Homo sapiens: one gene and its partners. The protein of the gene in region 2 purifies or fractionates together with the protein of the main gene of each other region. This does not show direct contact. Each region holds a gene or a part of one and is shown on either strand. Other genes may lie near its edges.

Region 1 (3,500 bases), on a different chromosome or scaffold from region 2:
TTTTGGCTGTGTTGATTTTTCCACTGGCTTCTCTGCTCTCCTGTTTCACACTGGGGCGACTGCTATGGACTTCCTTGGCCCAGCCCTCTGAGGCACGTGTAAGAGATCAGTACTGGCTCAGCTTTTATAGATAGTGCCAAACTGTCTTCCAAAGTGTTCACCACAGTTTACAATGGCACACTATGTTTAGAAAGCGTTTTTTAATATGTCTTCTCTTCCCATTTATTTTATACATTTTTTCTACTATAAAAGAATTACATGCTTATTATAGAAAAGTTTTTAGAAAATGGAAAATAGTACAGAAAAAAGTTGTCCATAGTCCCTCCACCCAAAACAGCTCCGGCTAGCATTTTTATGTATTCTTCCAGGACTTTTTTTCATGTTTGGCTGGTGATTTACTATTGTTGTTTTAAAGTAGTGGTTAGTATAAGTTTTCACTATGTAATGGTTAGTATATGTATTTGGAGTGCCTGCTTTTGTTGTTTTGACATGACTAATGTTTCCCATATTATGTATCCTAGTAAACTTTTTTTTTTTTTTTTTTTTTTTTTTTGAGACAGAATCTAACTCTGTCGCCCAGGCTGGAGTCCATTGGTGTGATCTCGGCTCACTGCAACCGCTACCTACCAGGTTCAAGCAGTTCTGTTGCCTCAGCCTTCCCAGTAGCTGGGACTACAGGCACGCATCATCACCATGCCCGGCGGATTTTTGTATTTTTGGTAGAGACAGGGTTTCACTATGTTGGCCAGGCTGGTCTCGAACTCCTGACCTCAGGTGATCTACCCTCCTTGGCCTCCCAAGGTGCTAGGATTATAGGCGTGAGCCATAGTACACATAATTTTTAATGACTAGATAATGTTCTACCAGAGAAATGTACCACAATTATCTTTTACCTATTGTTTTACAATTCATTTGGAAATAAAAATTTTCTGTAATTTGTTGTTACTTGTAAGAAAGTTATAGCCAGGCACAGTGGCTCACACCTATAATCCAGCACTTTGGGAGGTTGAGGCAGGAGGATCACTTGAGTCCAGCAGTTGGAGACCAGCCTAGGCAACATAGTGAGACCCCATCTCGTCTCTTTAGCTGCGCCTGGTGCATTCCTGTAGTCTAAGCTACTCGAGAGGCTGAGGTGGGAGGATTACTTGAGCCCAGGATGTTGAGACTGCAGTGAGTGGTGATCATACCCCTACGCTTCAGCCTGGGTGACAGGGTGAGATCATGTCTCAAAAAAAAAAAAAAAGTTATAGATCAGAGGAACAGAATAGAGAATCCAGAGGTAGGTCCATATTATAGTCAACTGATTTTTTTTTTTTTTTTGAGATGGAGTTTTGCTCTTTCGCCCAGGCTGAAGTGCAGTGGCAGGATCTTGGCTCACCGCAACCTCCGCCTTCCGACTTCAAGTGATTCTTCTGCCACAGCCTCCCAAGTAGCTGGGATTATAGGCGCCCGCCACCACGCCTGGCTAATTTTTGTATTTTTAGTAGAGATGGGTTTTCACCATGTTGGCCAGGCTAGTCTTGAACCCCTGACCTTGTGATCCGCCTGTCTCGGCCTCCCAAAGTACTGGGATTACAGGCGTGAGCCACTGCACCTGGCCTAGTCAACTGATTTTTGACAAAGGAGTAAAGGCAATTCATTGGAGAAAAGAGTCTTTTCACCAAATGGTGCTGGAACAAGTGGACATTCACATGAAGAAAATTATTCTGGATGCAGATCTTATACCTTTCGTGAAGATTAACTCAAAATGAATGTTTAGTGTGTTTTCACACTGCTATAAATAGCCAAGACTGGATAATTTATTTATTCATTTATTATTATTATTATTATTTTTTTTTTTTTTTTTTGAGACTGAGTCTCTTTTTTTTTTTTTTTTTTTTTTTTTTTTTTTTTTTTTTGAGACGGAGTCTCGCTGTCGCCCAGGCTGGAGTGCAGTGGGGTGATCTCGGCTCACTGCAACCTGTGCCTCTCAGGTTCAAGCGATTCTCCTGCCTCAGCCTCTGGAGTAGCTGGGATTACAGGGCGCACGCCACCACACCCCACTAATTTTGGTATTTTTAGTAGAGACGGGGTTTCACCATGTTGGTCAGGCTGGTCTTGAACTCCTGACCTTGGCCTCCCAAAGTGCTGGAATTGCAGGCGTGAGCCACCATGCCCAGCTGACTGGGTAATTTATAAAGGAAAGAGGTTTAATTTACTCACAGTTTCACATGGCTGGGGAGACCTCAGGAAACTTACAGTCGTGGCAGATGGTGAAGGGGAAACAGGCACCTAGGTTCTTCATGAGGCAGCAGGACAGAGAAGAGCAGGGGAAACTGCCACTTACAAAACCATCAGATCTCATGAGAATTCATTCACCCTGACGAGAACAGCACGAGGGAAACCGCCCTCATGATTCAGTCACCTCCCACCAGGTCCCTCTCTTGACATGTGGGGATTACAATTCGAGATGAGATTTAGGTGGGGACACAGAGCCAGACCATATTGATGATTCGTAGACCTAAATAAAACACAACAATATAAAACTGGAAGAAGGTAACATCAGAGAAAATTGAGGTGGCTTTGGGTTTGGTGATGACTTTATAACACCAAAAGCACTATCTATTAAAAAATTGCTAAGTTTGGCTTTATTAATATAAAAAACTTCTGCTCGGTGAAAAACACTGTTAAGGAAATGAAAAGACAAGCCACAGACTGGGAGAAAAATTTTGCCAAACACATACCTGTTCAAGGTCAGGTATCCAAAATATACAAAGGACTCTTAAAACTCAATAATAAAAAACAACTCAATTTAAACATGGCCCAAAGACCTTGACAGACACCATGAAAGAAGATAACGCAGATGGCAAATAAGCATAAAAGGAAACCTTCAGTGTGGTACGTCAATAGGGAACTGTAGATTAAAGCAGTGATTGAGATGCCACCACATACCTGTTAGAATGGCTAAAATCCAAAACACTGAGAATAGCCTGGGCAACATGGTGAAACCCCATCTCTACCAAAAAAATACAAAAAATTAGCTGGGCATGGTGGCTTGCGCCTTAGTCCCAGCTACTTGGGAAGCTGAGGTTGGGAGGATCCCTTGAGCCCAGGAGGTCGAGGCTGCAGTAAGCTGTGATCGCACCACCTCACTCCAGCCTGGGTGACAAAGCGAGACCCTGTCTCAAAAAAAACCCAAAAACACTGATAATACCAACTGCTGGCAAGGATGTAGAGAAACAGGAAGGAACTCTCATTTATTACTGGTAGGACTGAAAACTGGCACAGCCACTTTAAAAGTCAGTTTGGCAGTTTCTTATGAAACTAAATATGTTATTATATGATGCAGCGATTGTGCTCCTTGATATTCACTCAAAAAAGTTGAAAACTTACATTCACACAAAAGCCTGCAGACAAATGTTCATAGCAGCATTATTCATAATTGCCAGAACTTGGAAGCAGCCATTCATTTCTTCAGTAGGTGAGTGGATGAATGGATAAACAAAATGTAGTGTATCTGT
Region 2 (2,365 bases):
CAGGGCATGAGAAATGGCTGTAGGAGGTCTAGAATGAATGAGACCTGCTGCCTGGCCCAGGGCTCCCATGGCCCTAGAAGTGTGTGGGATAGTTGTCAGCTTTTCCTCTTGCTCATGAGAAAGAGAGGAAGCCAGCGAGGATTCACAACTGTGGTGAGAGGCTACAGCGGAGGATGTGGAGTGAACCCCCAATAGGGAGTTGAATGGGGTGATACATCTCTAGGGCAGAGGGGTCATGCCCAAGGCCAGGCTAGATAAGACACTAGTAGGAGACTGAGAAAGCTGGGAAGCAAACATCCCCTCTGGGAGGCTGGAGGTGGCATTTGCATAAACACTTCTCCAACCCTGCCCCTCAGCCTAGCAAAGACCCCTGTGGGAAGAAGGGGAACAGAGGGCAACGATCTCAAGTGACTGCCTTTAAACCTGAAGTGCCTGAGGCATCAGTAACCTAGAAGTTACCAGAATACATTTCCTGCAAACAACATAGAAAGTAAATCCAGTTATAGCAAAATGATAGAAATTTTATTTTGCACATTTGAGTGTAGGGTCCTAAAATGGGTACCTGCTACCCAAGTGATGAGCTACTGCCTTTGTTTGTTAACTGCTCTTTCCTCCCTCAGCCTCTAGCCTTCTCCTTTCATCCAGCGGTGCTAGAGACCTGGTGTTGATATCCACATTCATAGGCTCTGAGTGATCTGGCATTTTTAAGATGGCAAAGCACTTTTGCATCCTGTGGGCTGTTGTCTGTAGTTCTGGCATATTGCATGCCTGAAGGCAGAGCTAGCACTGCTACCTCCAATACAGATGAGAAAACTGAGACCCAGAGAGATTAATGGTAAGGTTACACAGCAAATTAGAAGGAGTGTAGGACTAAGACCTAGGCTTCCCAACTCCCGGTCCAACTCCTGGGTGGGTCAGGGGTGCAGGTAGATTGCAGAGGATCTGGGATTTGGGGAAGATTCCTGGAATTTAGGCTTGTGCAAGAGGTCATTCCAGGCTTCCCAGCTTAGGGGAGCAGGCCCTGTCCTCCACCTGCAAGGACAAGAATCAGAGACATCTGTGCAGAAGGGATGCTCAGCGGATGACCTCCCTGAGAACAGGAACTACTCATCCTGGGCTGGCATCCAAAGCAGCCACTTTTGCAGTGGAATCTTGGAATAACAATATCACTCCACACTGGGCCTTGCCCTCACTTTGCAAAATACTCTCATGTCCTCTCAGAGCCTCCTGAATGCTCTTTGAGGCAGGCCTGGCTACCTTCATTTTATGGATAGGAAAACTGAGGCTCAGACAGAACATGTGGTTTGCCCAGCGTCTTTGCATGGAAATAGGGAGTTGAATGAAAGCTCAGGCTTTCGAGGACAGAGTGAGGCTAGTCTTCCAGCTGGTCCCTTTTCATATATCCTGGAAAGATAAACTGAATGAAAGGAGCTTTCCGTCCTACTTTTCATTTGTGCCAGAAATGACAACATCCCTTTCCCATCCAGCAAGATAACTAAAGACACTAAATCCTGTTTAGAATTTAAAAAACTTTCTACATTTTTCTCTCACTCTGAGATGCTCACAGTCATAAAGAATGTGTTAGACTTGGGCCAACAGCAAGGTTGTTGAGCAAGTGTTCTGCTTTCAGAGGTGGGCCAGCACCACCTTTTGACAAACGTGGACAGAACCCAAATTGTTTATCTCTGTATCCCGTTCTGTTTATGGAGTCCTCAGTAGGTACTCATGTGTCACGGATGAATGCATGCATGAACAAACAACCTCTCCTTGGCCTCCTCTGTGCCTCAGTGCCCACCATGGAAGCGTCTTCAGAAATCATCTTATCCAGCTGGCTCCTCTTACAGATGAGGTCCAGAGAGGGTGAGTGACCGGCTGGAGGTCACACAGCAAGTTAGAGGAAACACAGGTGCTGGAGGATTACCTCCCTATTTCAGAGCTCGGCCTGAGATCTCATCCAGCCTGTCTTCTGAACCAGGAGAGCAGCTTTAGCCAGGAGAGAAGAGAGCTGTCCTTTATTGTTTAGTTTGCTTTTGAGTCTGGTGCAGCCTTCCAACTGGCATGTTCAGGGTAGCTTCCTGGGCTGTGGGCCATTTTTGGATTGTGAAATCGATTTCCCCAGAGGCCCAGGGCACATCTGCTACCTGCCTTCACCTGGAGAGGAAAGTGGCTCATTTGGGGAGAGCATGTCCAATCTCTATGTTGAAGTAGCACAGATGCTGCCCCATTTGGGGTGTGGAGGTGGAAGGATGCATAGCACAGGGATGCAAGTTTGATGGATGGGAAGACCTGGGACAGGCTGTGTTTCCCATGGGTGCGCTGGGAGGAGGGTGATCCAGGCAGGGAACCAGGCAGAGGCCAGCTGATC
Region 3 (3,500 bases), on a different chromosome or scaffold from region 2:
GCTCTGATATTTCAAAATACATTGGGTCCCTTAGGTTGAGCTAAATAAGAAACAGGAAACCTAACAGGTCTGCCTTTAGGATCTTCTCTCAATCCAGTAATAGAAACCCATACACCAACTTAGAAATTACAGACACTAAGATAAAGTGCAAACATAGGGGGTCCAGTAAGTATAACATGGGGTGCTGCTTTCTGACACCCACAGCATGAAATTCTATACAGCAATCCCCAGAGGTTTAAAGTCATGTTGGGTTACAAACCTAAAATCTGAGTTACTAAAACTGGCTTTTCTGACACATAGTTAAGGCCACATTCTATTCTTTGTTTTATGCCCAGCTGCGATTTGTTTCTGGGTCGAAAATGAACACACGTAATCAAGTTATAAGTAAGAAAATATGTCTCAATCCAGTTTGTTTTTCAAACAAAGTTAACAAACGCCCCTGGCATTTTGCTAATTTACCTCTACTGGTTATATTGAGGTATCAGAGGGACGCTCATAGGACCCACCTGAACCCTCGAAAAGCAGGATTGTCTCATTATTTCCCAAGACCATATGCGTGAAGACCTTGCCTACAACATCTATTAACTGTTTCCTAGGTATCAAGCACAATCCTACTCATAAATATATTACATAAAATATGTAATCTCAACAGCACCATGGGGTAGTATGCCATTCACATTCTCCTTTTACCCATAAGGAAATCCTACTAGCTGAGTTCGTGGAGCTGTACTATGAGCAAAGGCCAAGTCCAGCAAAATTCAGTAAGGCAGGAAGGCACCACAGAGGGGATAGAAGGAACTCCACTGAGAAGCCGGCAATGGGGCAAAGCTCTCAGCCCAGGAATGTTATGCGCCTGGGTTACAAGGATGGTGCCACCTGGGGTAGTTCAGAACTCAGGTGTTGAGGGAATAAGGAAGAAATTCAGTATTTTGAGTATCCTCTGCCTCTCAACATTTCATCTTCCTATTTGCCAGAGAAGCTTTTTACCAAGAGAAAGCAATGAGCATACAGTTTAATGATTTCATTCTTTTTCTTTTCTTTCTTTTTTTTTTTTTTTTTCTTGAAATGCAGTCTCAGTCTGTCACCTAGGCTGGAGTGCAGCAGCAGCACAATCTCGGCTCACTGCAACCTCCGCCTCCCAGGTTCAAGCAATTCTCCTGCCCAGCCTCCCGAGTAGCTGAGATTACAGGAGCCTGCCACCATGCCCAGCTAATTTTAGTATTTTTAGCACAGATGAGGTTTCACCATGTTGGCCAGGCTGGTCTTGAACTCCTGACCTCAGGTGATCTGCCCACTTCGGCCTCCCGAAATGCTGGGATTACAGGCGTGAGCCACCATGCCCAGCCGATTTCATTCATTTCTGTTACTTCTAATTTTGAAAGACATCATTTGGTATAGAAAGTTAGAAGTTGGAACTTCTAAGATTAAAATAAAGCAGTTAAAAAAATACAGCAATAGACAATCCATGCTGAAAAGTCACTTCAACTAAAAAAGTCACTAAACCAAAGCTCTACTGAAAAGGCCGAGACTGACTTTGCATTTCTCCACAACTAGGAAATTCACTAGAATTTTGTAGCACAGCAACAAAATTCAGACCAATGCTGAAGGCACTGACCTCAGTTCTATGTGTTTATGTATTAACCAAACACTAAAACTGACCTCTGTTATGACATCTCAGAAAAAAGCTAATTCTGGAGCTGTCCTTTAAAGACCGGGTGTGGTGGCTCACACCTGTAATCCCAGCACTTTGGGAGGCCGAGGTGGGTGGATCACTTGAGGTCAGGAGTTCAAGATCAACCTGGCCAACATGGCAAAACCCCGTCTCTACAAAAATTACAAAAATTAGCCAGGCGTGGTGGTGCACACCTATCATCCCAGCTACTGGGGAGGCTTGAGCCTGGGAGGCAGAGGTTGCAGTGAGCCGAGATCAGCCACTGCACTATGGCCTGGGCAGAGTGAGACCCTGCCTCAAAACAAAACAAAGCAAAACAAAAAACAAAAAGCAAACAAAAAAGCTGTCCTTCAAAGAAAACTCGATGCCACAAGGGCGAAAATGACAGGCTTACCGATTAATATTGGCATAGAAAATAACCATAAACAGTAGTAGAGAGAGGAATTTCACTGAGTTTAATCTGGTAAATATTGGACAAGAATTGAATTTCAAGGAGACTTTGCACATTGGGTCATGGCAGAGTATAAAAATCCCACCTCCACAGCACACCCACCCAGAATCCTTGGGCAAGTTATTTAATCTCATCGTCCTTCCGTTTCCTTTAAAATAAAAAAATTTTTTTAAATGTCAATTTAATGGGAATTTAATGTGAGGCCATGTGAGTACAACATTTTACATTTCCAGGGACTGCAAAAATGTTAGTTCCTTCCCCCATCATTTAGTTTGAAAATTCTTAGATAATTCTTTGCTGGTAAATTCCAACAGAATAGTTAGCACACAGGTTCCACACACACAAGTTCTAGAATCAGGAATCTGAAGCACCACAATGAAAAGAACATTTAACATCTTTTAAAAATGTTTAATGTTATCAGAAAGATGTTTGGTATATGTGTTCCATGCATGCTCCTGCTGGTTCTATTTGAAAAAGAAGTTTTTACAGTTATCTGTTGTCACCATATTGTAAAGGTAAAATCTCTACTTCTTCGCTCTGAATATTTTACTACTTAAGATTCTAAGAGGTTTTCAGTCTTTTTAAATATATTAACAGTCCATTCTGCCAAGAAATCAGTTTCTACACAGAGATAAAAACCAAAGATTAGTTAAATCCATTCCTCCCAATTAGAACGAGTATTGGAGTGATCAGAGAAAGAGAAGAGGGGGCTGTGTGTGGTGGCTCACACCTGTAATCCTAGCACTTTGGGAGGCCGAGGCGGGCAGATCATCTGAGGTCAAGAGTTGAAGACCAGCCTGACCAACATGGAGAAACCCCGTCTCTACTAAAAATACAAAATTAGCCAGATGTGGTGGTGCATGCCTGTAATCCCAGCTACTCAGGAGGCTGAGGCAGGAGAATCGCTTGAACCTGGGAAGTGGAGGTTGCGGTGAGCCGAGATCGCACAATTGCACTCCACCCTGGGCAACAAGAGCAAAACTCTTGTCTCAAAAAATAAAAATAAAGAGAAGAAATGTAATTGCATTTTTTGCTGTCCCCTCACCACCTCTTCATCACTTGGTCCAAGGAAACAAGAGAAAAGTGTTTTGATCACCAAGATGGAAAAGGAATCCCAATTCTTTTACTCATTTAATGCCTCAAATTTCACGTGTAAAGGGTAAAAACCTGGTCTACAGCTTATCTTGGCTAATAAGCTAAACACACCATGTTAATGAGAGAAGCTAACATTGTCAAATGTCATTTTGTTTTGCTACTTCCTGCAGAAGAATACTGTTTGTTTATCATATGTCAAATAGCTTAATAGAGATACTAACTTACATCTTTAAAATCCCCCACAACTATCTTGTGACTAGTTTTATTCCCTTCCACCTTATA
Region 4 (3,500 bases), on a different chromosome or scaffold from region 2:
AGCCGAGATTGCGCCACTGCAGTCCGCAGTCCAGCCTGGGCGACAGAGCGAGACTCCGTCTCAAAAAAAAAAAAAAAAAAAAGAAATAGCATCTGGAACACATGAATTATTTTTCTCTTTCTATAAAGTTTTCCTAGTTCTGTCCATCAAAAGGCCTATAAACAATGACAACATTGTAGGAATATACAAAAATATCACCCAGATTATAATCTCTAAATACCATTTCCCACTGAAAGGAATTAGAATTCTGATTCTAAATCTGGGGAAGAAAATATACAAGATGAGCTTCATCTTGTATATTTTAGGAAACTACTACAGACCACTGGGATTGTGCCAAGGACAAAGGAGCCAACATAAATAAGCTGCCACTGGTCAAAGAAAGAATAATTTGAACATCGAAAATGAATGGGAGGCAAAAATCCATGAGTTTATAATTCTAAACAAACAAACAAAACTCTAGTCATGTTTTGAGGCTCCTAAGGCACAAATTAATTATTCTGGGAATATGTAGGTAAAAAGAAAAAAAAAGTCCCATTTTATTTTGGCCTTTCCTGTATAAATACTTTCAGGGTAATAAAGTGGTATATGAGGAAGAGGTCTTCTTTCCTGAAGAATCCCAGCCAATAAATTCAGAAGGCTGGAGAAGGAATATCACCTTTTACAACACCTACTAATATACTGCAATGAGGCAACAATTAGCAATAGATGCTATCATTAGAGAAAAGTTAATTGGGAATTTTACAACGGATGAATCAATCTGACAACAGCTAAACTGTTTGATTTTAACATCACAAAACACATCTTCTTGATGTAAAGAAATACACATCACCAACTAGGAATCTTGCCAAAAAAGAATTGAAAGTAAATCTAATCAAGCCTGTCTCTACCTATAAATTTACTGGAAATACAGAGAACTGAAAAACATGTTAAATTTTACCAGAGATACACTCAGCCAAAACCAGAATGAGGAAAATTATGTAGAACAAATGACCCTGTTTCTTCAACAAATAAATTATAAACAAAGAGACAATCAATAGATTAAAATTTAAAAGGCATATCAAGGGCAGGCCCAGTGGTTCACGCCTGTAATCCCAACACTTTGGGAGGCCGAGGCAGGCAGATCACCTGAGATCAGGAGTTCAAGACCAGCTTGGCCAACATGGTGAAACCCTGTCTCTACCAAAAATATAAAAAATTAGCCAGGCGTGGTGGCACGCGCCTGTAATCCTAGCTACTCGGGAGGCTGAGACAGGAGAATCACTTGAACTGGGGAGGCAGAAGTTGCCGTGAGCTGAGATCATGCACTGTACTTCAGCCTGGGTGACAGAGCAAGACTTCATCTCAGAAAAATAAATTTAAAAAAAAATAAAAGGTATATCAACCACCAAATGTAACGTGTGTGAACCTGGTTTGGCTCCTAATTTCAAAAAATTACGAAAACATTATTAGACAATGGGGAAATATGAACACAGACCGGATAAGATGATAAAAAGAATTATTAATCTTTTAGATGATATGTTTTAAAAGACTATATTTCTAGAGTTCTCTGTGAGTCTGTCTTTTCCAGATGAAGTAATATATTCTCTAAGATAGAGGTTCTTCAAAGTATAGTAGGAGAAGCTCCAGGGGTCTCTGGATCTTTTCAGGAGGCTAAAGTTCTGGAGATCTGTTCATAATGACCTAAATATGCTTATAATACTACTGAGCTGTATACTTAAAAATGGTTCAGATGATAAATTTTATATTTTTGCCACAACAAAAAAATTAACTAAAAAAGACCACATACCTCCTTTTATTTTAATTTCTCAATAAATATAATCTCTCTTGCCCAAAGCAATTTCAAAGTTTACTATATTAAAATAACTTAGAGAACCAATCTTGATTCATCACCTAACAAAAAAATAATAAACTAGTTCTAAAAATACAAATATGTAAATTCAAACTGAATCAAAAATCTGAAATAGAATTTTCAGCTATGAAGATGTTATTGTCTCTTAGTTTAATAGTGTAACAAATTAGAAAATTAACAGTAAGCCAGGGTATCATTATCTGGTTCCTCAGGATAACTTATGAGTCATATAAAACATTTTCTTTTGATCCTATGCATGAAATTTGAGACAAATTGCTAGGGTTTTTTGTATGCAATTATAAATGTTAAGAATATTAAAAATTTATCCAGCCAGGTGAGGCAGCTCAGGCCTGTAATCCCAGCACTTTGGGAGTCCGAGGCAGGCGGATCACTTAAGCTCAGGAGTTCCAGACCAGCCTGGGCAACATGGCGAAACCCTGTCTCTACAAAAAATACAAAAATTAGCCAGGTATGGTGGCGTGCACCTGTAATCCCAGCTACTCCGGAGGTTGAGGTGGGAGAATTGCTTATGCCTGGGAGGTGGAGGCTGCAGTGAGCCAAGATTGTGCCACTGCACTCCAGCCTGGGTAACAGAGCAAGACTCTTGTCTCAAAAAAAAAAAAAAAAAAAAAATCTAAAAAATACTGTGCATCATCTTTACCAAACTGAATGTTAATTTTATCAAGTTCTCCCCTCTGCAAACTATCCAGATAAAAAATATGAATGTGTCAGAGTGAAACTACATTAAATACAAATTGGTAGAACATGGTTAGATAGAAAGCAGTTTAGCTACATTTGTGGGAAAAAAAAAACCTGTACCTTTTGGCCCAATTAATTCCACTGTTGAAAATTTACTTTAAAGAAATAATCTAGGCCGGGCGCAGTGGCTCACGCCTGTGATCCTAGCACTTTGGGAGGCCAAGGCGGGTGGATCACAAGGTCAGGAGATCGAGACCATCCTGGCTAACACGGTGAAACCCTGTCTCTACTAAAAATACCAAAAAAAATAGCGGGGCATGGTGGCAGGCGCCTGTAGTCTCAGCTACTCGGGAGGCTGAGGCACAAGAATGATGTGAACCTGGGAGGCGGAGCTTGCAGCAAGTTGAGATGGCGCCACTGCACTCCAGCCTGGGAGACAGAGCGAGACTCCGTCTCAAAAAAAAAAAAAAAAAAGAAATAATCTAGAATACAAATTTAACCACAAAGGTATTTATCACAAGGCTAAGCGAATAGGTTATCATTCCACTATTATTAGGCATTTATATTAAGTAAATAATAGTACATGCATACAATAAATTAGGCTGCTGTTAAAAATCATTTACAGTAAATTTTTAACAACGATTTTAATTGCCCTGATATATAAATTTTTTTTTTATACTTTAAGTTCTTGGGTACATGTGCACAACGTGCAGGTTTGTTACATATGTATACATGTGCCATGTTGGTGTACTGCACCCATTAACTCGCCATTTACATTAGGTATTTCTCCTAATGCTATCCCTCCCCCCTCCCCCCACCCCACAACAGGCCCCAGTGTGTGATGTTCACATTCCTGTGTCCAAGAGTTCTCATTGTTCAATTCCCACCTATGAGTGAGAACATGCAGTGTTTTGTTTTTTTTCCCTGCGACAGTTTGCTGAGAATGATGGTT
Region 5 (3,500 bases), on a different chromosome or scaffold from region 2:
GCCACCACACCCCGCTAATTTTTGTATTTTTAGTAGATATGGAGTTTCCCCATTTTACCCAGGCTGGTCTTGAACTCCTGACCTCAAATGATCCACCTGCTTCGGCTTCCCAAAGTGCTGGGATTACAGGCATGGGCCACCATGCCCGGCCCAAATTAAAACATTTGATAGCACTTTATTTTAGTCTTTTTCCTATACCCATAGGAATACTTTTTTTTTTTTTTTTTTAGACAGAGTCTTGCTGTGTCACTCAGACTGGAGTACAGTGCCGCAATCATGGCTCACTGCAACCTCCGCCTCAAGGGTTCAAGTGATTCTCCTGCCTCCGCCTCCCAAGTAGCTGGGATTACAGGTGCCCGCCACCACACCCGGCTAATTTTTATATTTTTAGTAGAGACAGGGTTTCACCATGTTGGCCAGGCTGGTTTCGAACGGCCTCCCAAAGTGCTGGGATTACAGGCGTGAGCCACCATGCCTGGCCTGGAATACATATTTTTGGAATACTGTTTTTGGAACAGATGTTTGAAAAGTATTAACATTTTTGTCCGTAAAATTCCAGATAGTGGTACAGAGGACCTTAAATGGACCTGTCAATATGAAATCTTCTGAATATACAATGCTAAGAATCTAATGAACAAAGTACTATTTTCAACTAATCTATAAATTGCTATGTAACGAATAAGACTGAGGTGGGTTTATCTGCAATATATTTATATATTTGTAGTACATATTATGCATTTTATGTGGGCACAGAAGCAAATAGGTATGGGATTGGCCTAAAAATTCACCACTGTAATTCTGTGGCTGTGAGAAAATGCTGGAATGTGTTCTCTCCCTCACCATAAAATCATGCTCAAGTCTTCCATGCTAAAAAACTTCTCGGCCGGGCATGGTGGCTCACACCTGTAATGCCAGCACTTTGAGAGGCCGAGGTGGGTGGATCATGAGGTCAGGAGATCGAGACCATTCTGGCTAACACGGAGAAACCCCGTCTCTACTAAAAATACAAAAAAAGTAGCCAGGCGTGGTGGCACACACCTGTAGTCCCAGGTACTCGGGAGGCTGAGGCAGGAGAATCGCTTGAACCTGGGAGGCAGAGGTTGCAGTGAGCCGAGATTGTGCCACTGCACTCCAGCCTAGGTGAAAGAGCAAGACTTTGTCTCAAAAAAAAAAAAAAAAAAAAAAGCTGCGCACCGTGACTCACGCCTGTCATCCCAGCACTTTGAGAGGCCAAGGCGGGTGGATCATGAGGTCACGAATTCAAGACCAGCCTGGCCAAGACGGTGAAACCCTGTCTCTACTAAAAAAATAAAAAAATTAGCCGGGCGTGGTGGTGGGCGCCTGTAATCCCAGCTACTCGGGAGGCTAAGGCAGAAAATTGCTTGAACCCTGGAGTGGAAGTCCGAGATCGAGCCACTGCACTCCAGCCTGAGTGACAGAGAGAGGCTCTGTCTCAAAAAAAAAAACTTCTCTATTAACTGTTTCTTCACTTTCATAGCCAAGCTTCTTAAGAGAATGTTCTATCTATCCTATCATCACTCCCCTATTTAGAAGTTTGAAAACTGGCTGAGGTCAGTGGCTCATGCCTGTAATCCCAGCACTTTGGGAAGACGGCTTGAGCCCAGGAGTTTGAGACCAGCCTGAGCAAGAAGATGAGACTCCCTCTCTACAACTTAAAAGAAGAAAAAAAAGAAGTTTGAAAAATGTTCCACAGCTTTCAGGATAAAGTTCAAACTCTTCTTTGGCACTCACAACACCCATTGTGATCTGGCCTCTCCCTACTTTGCCAGCCTTTCTCCCCTACTGTCTTATGTACCCATTGCTCCAAGTATTCTGAAGTATTTTTCCTTTCCCCAATTCATCCTATTTATCCTCATTCCATCTACAGCTTACGTCCTCTGCCATGAAATCTCCCTCCTATCCCATTCCACTTCCATGCCTATCCTTCTGACTGCTTATCCTTTACAACAGCTCAAATGTCACTCTTCTCTAAGAACCTTTCCCAAATTCCAAAGTCTGAGTTAAAAACTCTCCTTATGTTTTCAGAGGACAGATAAGTTAGCCAATGATTATAGAAGAGCACTAAGCTCCTGGACAGTCAGAGACAGAAAACTAAGCACTTCTGCAGTAGCATTCCTGTTACATGGTAAATGCCCAAGTAACAGTTGCCAAATACGTGAATAAACCATTTGTAAGTTAGGTCTAACTGTATAGGCATGTAAATATGTATTATATACTTATACAAATGTACTTTTAATAGATATGGGGTTTTGCCATGTTGGCCAGGCTGGTCTCGAACTCCTGACCTCAGGTGATCTGCCCGCCTTGGTCTCCCAAAGTGCTGGGATTACAGGCATGAGTCACCGTGCCCAGCCTTATGTTTTCTATAATAGTCTTTTATCAGATATGTCTTTTGAAAGTATTTTCTCCCAATATGTGGCTTGCCTTTTTTTGACAGTGTCTCACAGAGCAGAATTTTTTATTTTAATGAAGTCCAGCTTATCAATTAATTTTTCATGGATCATGCCTTTGGTGTTATATCTAAAAAGTCATTCCTAAACCTAAGGTTATTTTTATTTTCTCCTATGTTATATTCTAAGGGTTTTATAGTTTTGCATTTTGCATTTAGGTCTAGGATCCATTTTGAGTTAATGTTTGTGAAGAACGTGAGGTCTGTGTCTAGATGGATATCCAATTTTTTCAGCACCATGTTGAAAAGACTATCTTTTCTCCATTGTATTCCCTTTGCTCGTTTTGTCAAAGATCAGTTGACTATCTCTTTATTTTTACCTTTCCAAATCTTAGTTTTAGCTATGCCTCTTATAAATAGCATAGCACTGGATTTTCATTTGTTAGCCAGTCTGAAAATGTTTTACTTTATTATTTATTTTTTGAGACCAGGTCTTGCTCTGTTACACAGGCTGGGGTGCAGTGGAGTGATCGTGGTTCACTGCAGCGTCAAACTCCTGGGCTCAAGTGATCTTTCCACCTCAGCCTCCTAAGTAGCTAGGACTACAGGTACACACCCACACACTACCCCTCCTGCCTGGCTAATTTTTTTTTTTTTTTTTAGTATTTATTGATCATTCTTGGGTGTTTCTCGGAGAGGGGGATGTGGCAGGGTCATAGGATAATAGTGGAGAGAAGGTCAGCAGATAAACACGTGAACAAAAAGGTCTCTGGTTTTCCTAGGCAGAGGTCCCTGCGGCCTTCCGCAGTGTTTACGTCCCTGGGTACTTGAGATTAGGGAGTGGTGATGACTCTTAACGAGCATGCTGCCTTCAAGCATCTGTTTAACAAAGCACATCTTGCACCGCCCTTAATCCATTTAACCCTGAGTGGACACAGCACGTTTCAGAGAGCACGGGGTTGGGGGTAAGGTTATAGATTAACAGCATCCCAAGGCAGAAGAATTTTTCTTAGTACAGAACAAAATGGAGTCTCCTGTGTCTACTTCTTTCTACACAGACACAGTAACAATCTGATCTCTCTTTCTTTTC
Region 6 (4,268 bases), on a different chromosome or scaffold from region 2:
GGTGGTGGGGGCCTGTAATCCAGCTACTTGGGAGGCTGAGGCAGGGGAATCGCTTCAGCCCTGGAGGCAGAGGTTGCAGTGAGCTGAGATGGCACCACCTGCACTCTAGCCTGGTCGAAAGAGTGAGACTCCATCTCAAAAAATAATAATTATGAACATCAGCAGCATGGTGGAAACGAAAGTGAAAGGAACATAAGACCTCGTTCTTGGATGTTTCCAGTGAAATAGAGAGGGATAAATTCCATTCAAACTGTTATTATTTGAATAGAATAATATTTAATTCCAGTGCAGACCCCAAGCCAGGCTGCTCCTGGGAGCGACCCCAGGGACTGCCTGGGGAGGAAGGCTTAACTACTCTGACTTCCATCAGTTTGTCAGTCTCATCTTTACAATGGCATTTAAGAAAACATCAAAAAGGTAAACTTGTCACGATTCCACCACCTCCCTCCTCAATCCAGCCCCATCCACTGTGTATGCACACAATGATACCAAAACAGTCCACTGAAATTCCTTAAAATTTTCAGCTGTCAAATGTGTTTTGATAGCTAGCTAAGGGGCCCATAAGGGCAATTTTAACTTTTCCTGGGGAGTAAGCTGGGAGGGTAGAAGCGGTAGGGTACTCTTAGTGAAGATATAAAAATTATAGCTTTCTTTTACTCACTCCTTCAATCTTTGTCTACTGACTCTGAGGTACAATTTTCCTCAAGAGTAGTCTAAGACAGATTTCAACCACCAGGTGGCACAATTTTAGAAAATAAACCAAGAGCCAGCGCTGTATTAACTCTAGTATAAAGAAAACGGGTAAGCATTCTAATAACTCACTTCAGCAAATCTATAATCACAAGGAAGAACCCTGTATTTTAATGCCAGTTGGCTTTTCTTTAGAAAGATTTTCCTATTGTGCGGCTGCACAGGAAATTTACACTACAGTTGTAATTTCTAATGCTACTGCAAAATAAGCAAAAAACAAGGCCAGAAAAGTCTGTTGTGCAGAGTCTGAAGAAACTGTTCTCCAGAAAAAAAAACTGTAAACACTCCGCTTTCTAAAATATATCTTTTTAGGCTAGGCGCGGTGGCTCACGCCTGTAATCCCACCACTTCGGGAGGCCGAGGCAGGCAGATCACTTGAGGTCAGGACAAGCCTGGCCAACATGGTGAATCCCCGTCTCTACTAAAAATACAAAAATTAGCCAGGCGTGGCCTGTAACCCTAGCTACTCAGGAGGTTGAGGCACGAGAATCACTAGAACTCGGGAGGTGGAGGTTGCAGTGAGCCGAGATCGCGCCACTGCACTCCAGCCTGGGCGACAAAACAAGACGCCGTCTCAAAATAAAATTTAAATATATATATATATAAATAAATAACATAAAACATTTTTAAGGCCTACATTTCGGCCCTGGTATTAAAGAATTATTTTTCAACTTTTCAAGCTATGAGCCATACTGCAGCAGAGGTCGCAGACACGGTCGGGGACGGCCTCCCCTGCCCACTTCCACTTATCACAGGACCAGTTCTAAACCGATACCACTAAGAAAGCGACTGGCGCTGGCACTGTAGACCCCATGCCAGGCTGCTTCTGGGAGGGACCCGGGGGTGCTGCCTAGGGAGAAGGGCTTAACTACTCTGACTTCCACCGAAGAGTTTCTCAGAGAATGCGCCCTCGCAGCTTTCCCTGAATAAACATTACCAGGACTTACAAGGTGCCTAGCACTCTGCCAGAATCATGTGAATTTCAGAGGAAAATACTCGTTCACACATCTCAAGGAACGCACAGGCTCGTGAGGGAGCATTCTTGCCAATGCACATGGTAAATGCCCAATCGATGTTCGCGGAATGTCAGAAACTGACAACTAGTTCAGGCCTCAACGCAGTAGGAAAAGGATGAAAAAGAAACTCATTTTAAATCAACTAAACAAGTGCAAAAGCCATACATATAAAGGAGAGGAGATACGAATGGCATCACAACATAATTCCTTTGCCATCGAAAACTTCCATGCCTTTGAGGTTTTAAATGAAGACTTCCAAAACTGATTTACTTAAGACTCTACGTAAAACGCCTGATCTTTAAACGCAAGAAAAGCAAGATGAATGTATTACTTTCCTGGAAAAAAAAAGCATTAAAGGAGAAAAAAGAGTAAAGTGTACTGATGGGGCTCTTGGTGGGTTCTCACATCACAGGGCACTGCAGCTGAGACTTGCTTGAACGGCCCCCGTTTTCTACCCGCAAATTCTCAATTGCTAGATAAACAACAATAACAACACTTTATTGGGCGCTCATCGTGTCAAACCCTGTGTTGAGGGCTCCATTCCTCAAGGTCCATTTTACCGGCGAGGAAGCCCCGGCTCCGGGAGGGGAGGAGCGCGCCCAAGGTCACCAGCCAGTTGAGTGAGTGGCGGGCGGATCCCAACCCCGAGCGACGCCCACGGCCTGTCTCGGCCACCAGCGTGTTCCAGCGAGCGCCCAGCCACCTCGCTCGCAGCCTCCCCAGCGCAGCAGCCCGGCTGTGGGCCTGCGGCAGCCGGGTCTTCCTGGTCCCCACCTCCTGGGGCCGACGGGCGGCAGGAAGGGGCTCGGCGGGACGCGCCATCAGGGACCTGAGGAGGAACAACGGAACGCGTTCGGAACGGCCTGGACTCCCGAGACTCACCCGACTCGTGGCCACACCGGGAGAACTGAAGCGGCAGTAGCCGGCGGAGACGCCCGACCCGAAGGCCGGCTGCTAGGGAGCAGACAGCTGAACCGCTTGCCAGACGCCGAAACCCAGTGACGCCCTCCACCGCTCCACCGTGCTCCCGGCTCCTCGCCCCCGCCGCCCGCGGGCCCCAAGGCGCATGCGCCGCCTGTCCTGGAGGGGCCCATTTCCGTCCGTCGTGGGGGGAGGCACAGTGAGTCCACTGGGGCACGGCAGCGTCTAAGCCACAAGCCGAGCACATAAGCCAGGTCCTAACGGAGCCTATGTGTAAGTCCACTACTGGTGCAAGGTTGCACACTTCTAAGAAGAGCGGCGTGGGGGGCTCGGCGACCTTCGCTTCAGTCGCTCCCCCGTGCAGTCCCCTGTGCCCAAGACACAGCCTGATGCTTGTGCTCCGGTGGGCGGAGCTTGGAGGCGGCGGGAACTGCAATTGGTGGCTTTGAAGGCGCGGCGAGCGGGAACAGCTCTTGAGGAGTGAGACTGCAGGAGATGTGGGCCGGTAAGAGAGCCCCGGGCGGCACTGGATCGGGCCCCGGAGGGTGTGGGGCCTTGAGGAAGCCAGATCCCAGGCCTCGGGGGTGGCTTTTTCGCAATTGTCGCACGTTGTGAGGCGCAGGATTGGCGCTGGGTCTCGGGCTCGGGGCGAGGAACTACGGTTCGGGCCGAGGTGAGGGGGCGGTGGCGCTGTGCCGGCTGTGACGTCACCTCGCCCGCGGTGGGGCGGGTGGAGCCTTTCGTAGGCTCGCGACTGCGTCAGGGGAGGGCCGTGTGGTCATGTGACCAGGGGCTCCGCTCTACGATCCTGGGGTTGCTTCCTTTCCCAGAGTTGGGGTTTTGCTTTTCTGTCACCTCGGCTTCCGTCGTTTTTTGTCCCTGTACCCTCTTGCGTTGCTCCTCGCATTGCCTGTTGGAGCGCAGCAGAGGTGTGTGGCTACGGGAACGTTACTTAAAATGGATCTTTTTGATCATGCGTTCCACAGATCTTGAGCATCTACTGTATGTCAGACACTAAAACGCTAGGAAGTATAAAGAAAGTTTTAAAATGGGGCCAGGCGCGGTAGTTTACGCCTGTAATCCCAACACTTTGGGAGACCGACGTGGGCGGATCACCTTAGGTCAGGAGTTCGAGACCAGCCTGGCCAACATGGTGAAACCCCGTCTCTACTAAAAATACAAAAATTAACCGGACGTGGTATCGGGTGCCTGTAATCCCAGCTATTTGGGAGGCTGAGGCAGGAGAAGCGCATGAACCCGGGAGGCGGAGGTTGCAGTGACCCGAGATCGCGCCACTGCACTGCACCCTGGGCGACAAAGCGAGACTGTGTCTCCGAAACAACAAAAAAAGGAAAGTTTAAAAATGGTCACGGGGTAAACGTTTACTAAAGGGATTTCCGTCTTAATTGGTGAGACTGAGGGCGCTCTACCAAATTTCTTTAGACTGGCGTTCTGCAAACTTTACCCGGAATAAATCATCTGACGTACTTTTTAAAAGATGCTAAATCTCAAGCCCTCCGTGCGCCCTCCTCACAGTTTAATTTGATAGGGCCCAGGAATCTTCATTTTAACGGGTAGCCT
Region 7 (3,500 bases), on a different chromosome or scaffold from region 2:
CACCACGTTGGCCAGGGTGGTCTCGAACTCCTGATCTCAAGTGATCTGCCCGCCTCGGCCTCCCAGAATGCTGGGATTACAGGCAAGAGCCACTACGCCCACCCTTGCTTTTACATATTTTGGATGCTTCAACTATTAAGAAGTTATTCTGAGTAAAGAAGGGATTTACTGTTTTCTGTACACTTTTAGCCATTTCTGAAAATAATTTGTAAAGACAAAAACCTAGCATTAGCCTGTAAAGAAATATGCACTTTTGTCTTATAAAACAGAAACTTGAAGCCAAACTTCTTAAATAGGCTTTCCCTTAACTACACTAGATAAAAGACCTGGAAACGGTCAACATATCTAGCAATTTCCAAACTACCACAGGCCATCTCGTTTTCTGAACTTTGTCTTAGACATTAACATTCGAAAAAGGAAAAAAAAAAAAAAAACTTTTAAAAGAATTCTCTATTTTGTCTGAAATAAACTTAGTCTGTGAAAATTTATCTTACGCCTATAAAAATTCCTTAAGCCAATTAAGTCAGCATTAACCCAGCATTTAATATGGTTTTCAGTGATTCTAAATATCTATTTAGATATTTATTTGAGTCAGCGTCTCGCTCTGTTTCCCAGGTGCCACCACACCCAGCTAATTTAAAAAAAAAAAATTTTTTTTTTTGGTAGAGACCGAGTCTCACTATGTTGCCCAGGCTAGTCTTGAACTTCTGGGCTCAAGCAATCCTCCTGCTTCAGCTTCCCAAAGTGCTGGGATTACAAGCATGAGCCACTGCATCCAGACCTAAATGCCTACTTTCTTTTAACTCAGTTTTCATTCACATGAAGGAACTCCAAAAAAAATTCAAGTCTGATTATTGTGATAATGGTATAAAATGTTTGTCAAAAAATGTCATCAGTGAACTAACAAACCAGCTCCTTTCTAAATTAAAATGCTTCTGAATAATCACTATAATTTTAATATTCCATTTTAAATCTCTGTTGAAAACACTGGCCATCTATGAAAAAAAATGTAGTTATCTGGGATTGTAGATTGACCTTATTCACAAAATAAAATTTTAAATGAAAATTAAGTTTCTTGGTGACTTGCTATCTCTCAAGTGCTATTACTGATATAAGTGATTCTTTACTATACTGTATCAGATACCTTAAGGAAAGGTAATTGCCTAAAAAATAATCTGTCAAAAATATGTGCTGTTATGCACTGCGAGTAGAATCATTACATTTAATCATTTAAAGAGTTTAATTATTTTCTTTCATTTTTGGCAGTGAGATGGGGACACTTTCTCTAACATGAACACATTAAGAAGATACACATATTTTGAACAAGAGATTTTAACTTTTTATGGCAAAATTTACTGGTGTCAATTGTATTTTAATTGAGAGGTTAACACCATGTTGCTGTCTCTATTCCACTGAACAAAAATGACTTTGAAATAGAGGAAAAGAATAGCCAGTTTTAACTGGCGATAATTTTTTAAAATCACATTTTCACAACACTACAACATATGGAGATGTAGACAGTTAGTCTTTAACACAGAGTGCTGTAGTATTTTATACTGTGGTGCTTGGGGAAATATTCCTAGTGAATAACCGGCAGTCTGTGCAGGAACCAGCAGTCCACACTTCTAGGTATAAATATGGAGGACAAGCTTCTGCTCACCGCCTCAAGAGAGGTGGACTCCCGAAGGGTAGCCTGTCTCATTTTAAAACCTATACCATGAAACCAATTCCCAGTTCCTACACTCTGTTCTACCTTCATAATTTTTCTTTCTCATATATCTTTCCGCCAGCCATCCAGGCTCCTGCCAGTGATTAGCTTCCACAAGATGATCCACATTTCCCTTCTTTCACACTAAGAAGGACATCTTATAAAATATACACAGATAGAGAAGAAAGGCATTTTATACAGAAGCAGTATAAAATTTACAACTGAAGCAGTGTCAGAAATCAGGTCAACAGCTTATGTGAAGCTGCAAATTGATTGGAAGGGACTCTGAGATCAGAAAAGTCTGGCCTAAGGGTTCGTGCAAACTTTACCATAAAACTGTAGAATCTCAAGCACAAGTAAGTTCAAACACTGAAAGATGTGGAAAATTTCCTAAAAGGCAATGATAAAGGAAGAGACCCTTCTTGACTCATAAGTTTAAAATCACAAGACAAATTAGAGACTGTTCACATGGGCAGTACTACACATTATCAATCCCAAACTGATTTTATGACTCTTGTCATAGAAACCCCCAAAACATCAGGGAGGGTAAGATATTCCAAATGGACCAATCACAAAAAGGATTCCTGTGATTCAACTATCCAATACTTATGGCTATCAATTTAGTCTGGCTTGGGGCTGTTTTTTACAGGGAGGTGGCCTCCCATGGCGCACAATGTGTTTTTCTAAGCTATCCAGAATGGCCACAGCAATCTGTTGGACATGGGGATCAGTATGTTCATGATCTTTGATGTTGTATAAATGCTGCAATCCTCCTTCTTCAATCAGCATGCTGCAATACCTTGAAGCTGAAAAAGAAAAAAAAACACACACAAAACAGGAGAAATAGCTTTTCTTAAAACACTTGAAAATTATTCCACAAAAAAATGACTTCTAGGAGCCATTTTTTTTTAGCTGTTTTGTTATTGATCACTAACATGCTACAGCTTGATAAATAACCTCTATACTGATGTTACGTCTACAGTGCAAGGCCTACACATTCAATCAATAAATAGCTAGCTTGATTTTTCTAACCTCAAGACATGTACAACCTGTATTAAAAAAATAAAAACAATCATAACTACCTTATCTTTGACCCAAAATCACAGGTAAGTGTTGTTATATTTTTATGCATTTCCTATGCTTTTTTTTTTTTTTTAGACAGAGTCTTGCCCTGTTGCCCAGGCCAGAGTACAGTGGCGCAATCTCGACTCACTGCAGCCTCCGCCTCCTGGGTTCAAGCGATTCTTGTGCCTCAGCCTGGAAATACAGGCACATGCCACCACCCCTGGCTAATTTTTTTATTTTTAGTAGAGATGGGGTTTTACCATGTTGCCTAGGCTGGTCTCAAACTCCTGCCCTCAAGCAATCCTCCCGCCTCAGCCTCCCAAAGTACTAGAATTACAGGCATGAGCCATAATGCCAGGCTGCATTTACTATGCTTTTTAAAAACTTAATGGCACTCATACTGCACATACAATTTTTAAATTTTTGAAATATTTTATTAGCCTTTTTTTTTTTTTTTTTTTTTTTAAAGACAGTCTCATTCTGTTGCCCAGGCTGGGGTGATCATGGCTCATGCCCAGTGGTGTGATCATGGCTCACTGCAGCTTGCTGTGTTGCCCAGGCTGGAGTCCAATGGCACAATTTTGGCTCACTGCAACCTCTGCCTCCCGGGTTCAAGCAATTCTCCTTCCTCAGTCTCCTGGGTAGCTGGGACTATAGGCACCAGCCACCACACCTGGCTAAATTTTTGTATTTTTGGTAGAGGTGGGGTTTTACCACGCTGGCCAGT

What was found.
Region 1: the proteins of ISX (region 2) and SEPHS1 purify together in Homo sapiens (co-immunoprecipitation; one large-scale study listed by IntAct). This does not show direct contact.
Region 3: the proteins of ISX (region 2) and BASP1 purify together in Homo sapiens (affinity purification with mass spectrometry; one large-scale study listed by BioGRID and IntAct). This does not show direct contact.
Region 4: the proteins of ISX (region 2) and DCK purify together in Homo sapiens (affinity purification with mass spectrometry; one large-scale study listed by BioGRID and IntAct). This does not show direct contact.
Region 5: the proteins of ISX (region 2) and KGD4 purify together in Homo sapiens (co-immunoprecipitation; one large-scale study listed by IntAct). This does not show direct contact.
Region 6: the proteins of ISX (region 2) and CMC2 purify together in Homo sapiens (affinity purification with mass spectrometry; one large-scale study listed by BioGRID and IntAct). This does not show direct contact.
Region 7: the proteins of ISX (region 2) and ZYG11B purify together in Homo sapiens (co-immunoprecipitation; one large-scale study listed by IntAct). This does not show direct contact.

The regions. Positions count from the first base shown.
Region 1 is NC_000010.11:13,324,294-13,327,793, reverse strand, and holds part of SEPHS1 (selenide, water dikinase 1), read left to right. Parts: intron 1-3,500. UniProt on the Homo sapiens protein: Synthesizes selenophosphate from selenide and ATP.
Region 2 is NC_000022.11:35,085,523-35,087,887, reverse strand, and holds the end of ISX (intestine-specific homeobox), read right to left. Parts: coding exon 2,195-2,365; 3' UTR 501-2,194; downstream 1-500. UniProt on the Homo sapiens protein: Transcription factor that regulates gene expression in intestine. May participate in vitamin A metabolism most likely by regulating BCO1 expression in the intestine.
Region 3 is NC_000005.10:17,269,631-17,273,130, reverse strand, and holds part of BASP1 (brain acid soluble protein 1), read right to left. Parts: intron 1-3,500.
Region 4 is NC_000004.12:71,017,649-71,021,148, reverse strand, and holds part of DCK (deoxycytidine kinase), read right to left. Parts: intron 1-3,500. UniProt on the Homo sapiens protein: Phosphorylates the deoxyribonucleosides deoxycytidine, deoxyguanosine and deoxyadenosine. Has broad substrate specificity, and does not display selectivity based on the chirality of the substrate.
Region 5 is NC_000005.10:69,220,760-69,224,259, reverse strand, and holds part of KGD4 (alpha-ketoglutarate dehydrogenase component 4), read right to left. Parts: intron 1-3,500. UniProt on the Homo sapiens protein: Molecular adapter that is necessary to form a stable 2-oxoglutarate dehydrogenase enzyme complex (OGDHC). Enables the specific recruitment of E3 subunit to E2 subunit in the 2-oxoglutarate dehydrogenase complex (OGDHC).
Region 6 is NC_000016.10:81,004,086-81,008,353, forward strand, and holds the start of CMC2 (COX assembly mitochondrial protein 2 homolog), read right to left. Parts: upstream 2,801-4,268; 5' UTR 2,649-2,800; intron 1-2,648. UniProt on the Homo sapiens protein: May be involved in cytochrome c oxidase biogenesis.
Region 7 is NC_000001.11:52,820,453-52,823,952, reverse strand, and holds part of ZYG11B (protein zyg-11 homolog B), read right to left. Parts: intron 2,515-3,500; coding exon 2,324-2,514; 3' UTR 1-2,323. UniProt on the Homo sapiens protein: Serves as substrate adapter subunit in the E3 ubiquitin ligase complex ZYG11B-CUL2-Elongin BC. Acts to target substrates bearing N-terminal degrons for proteasomal degradation with the first four residues of substrates being the key recognition elements.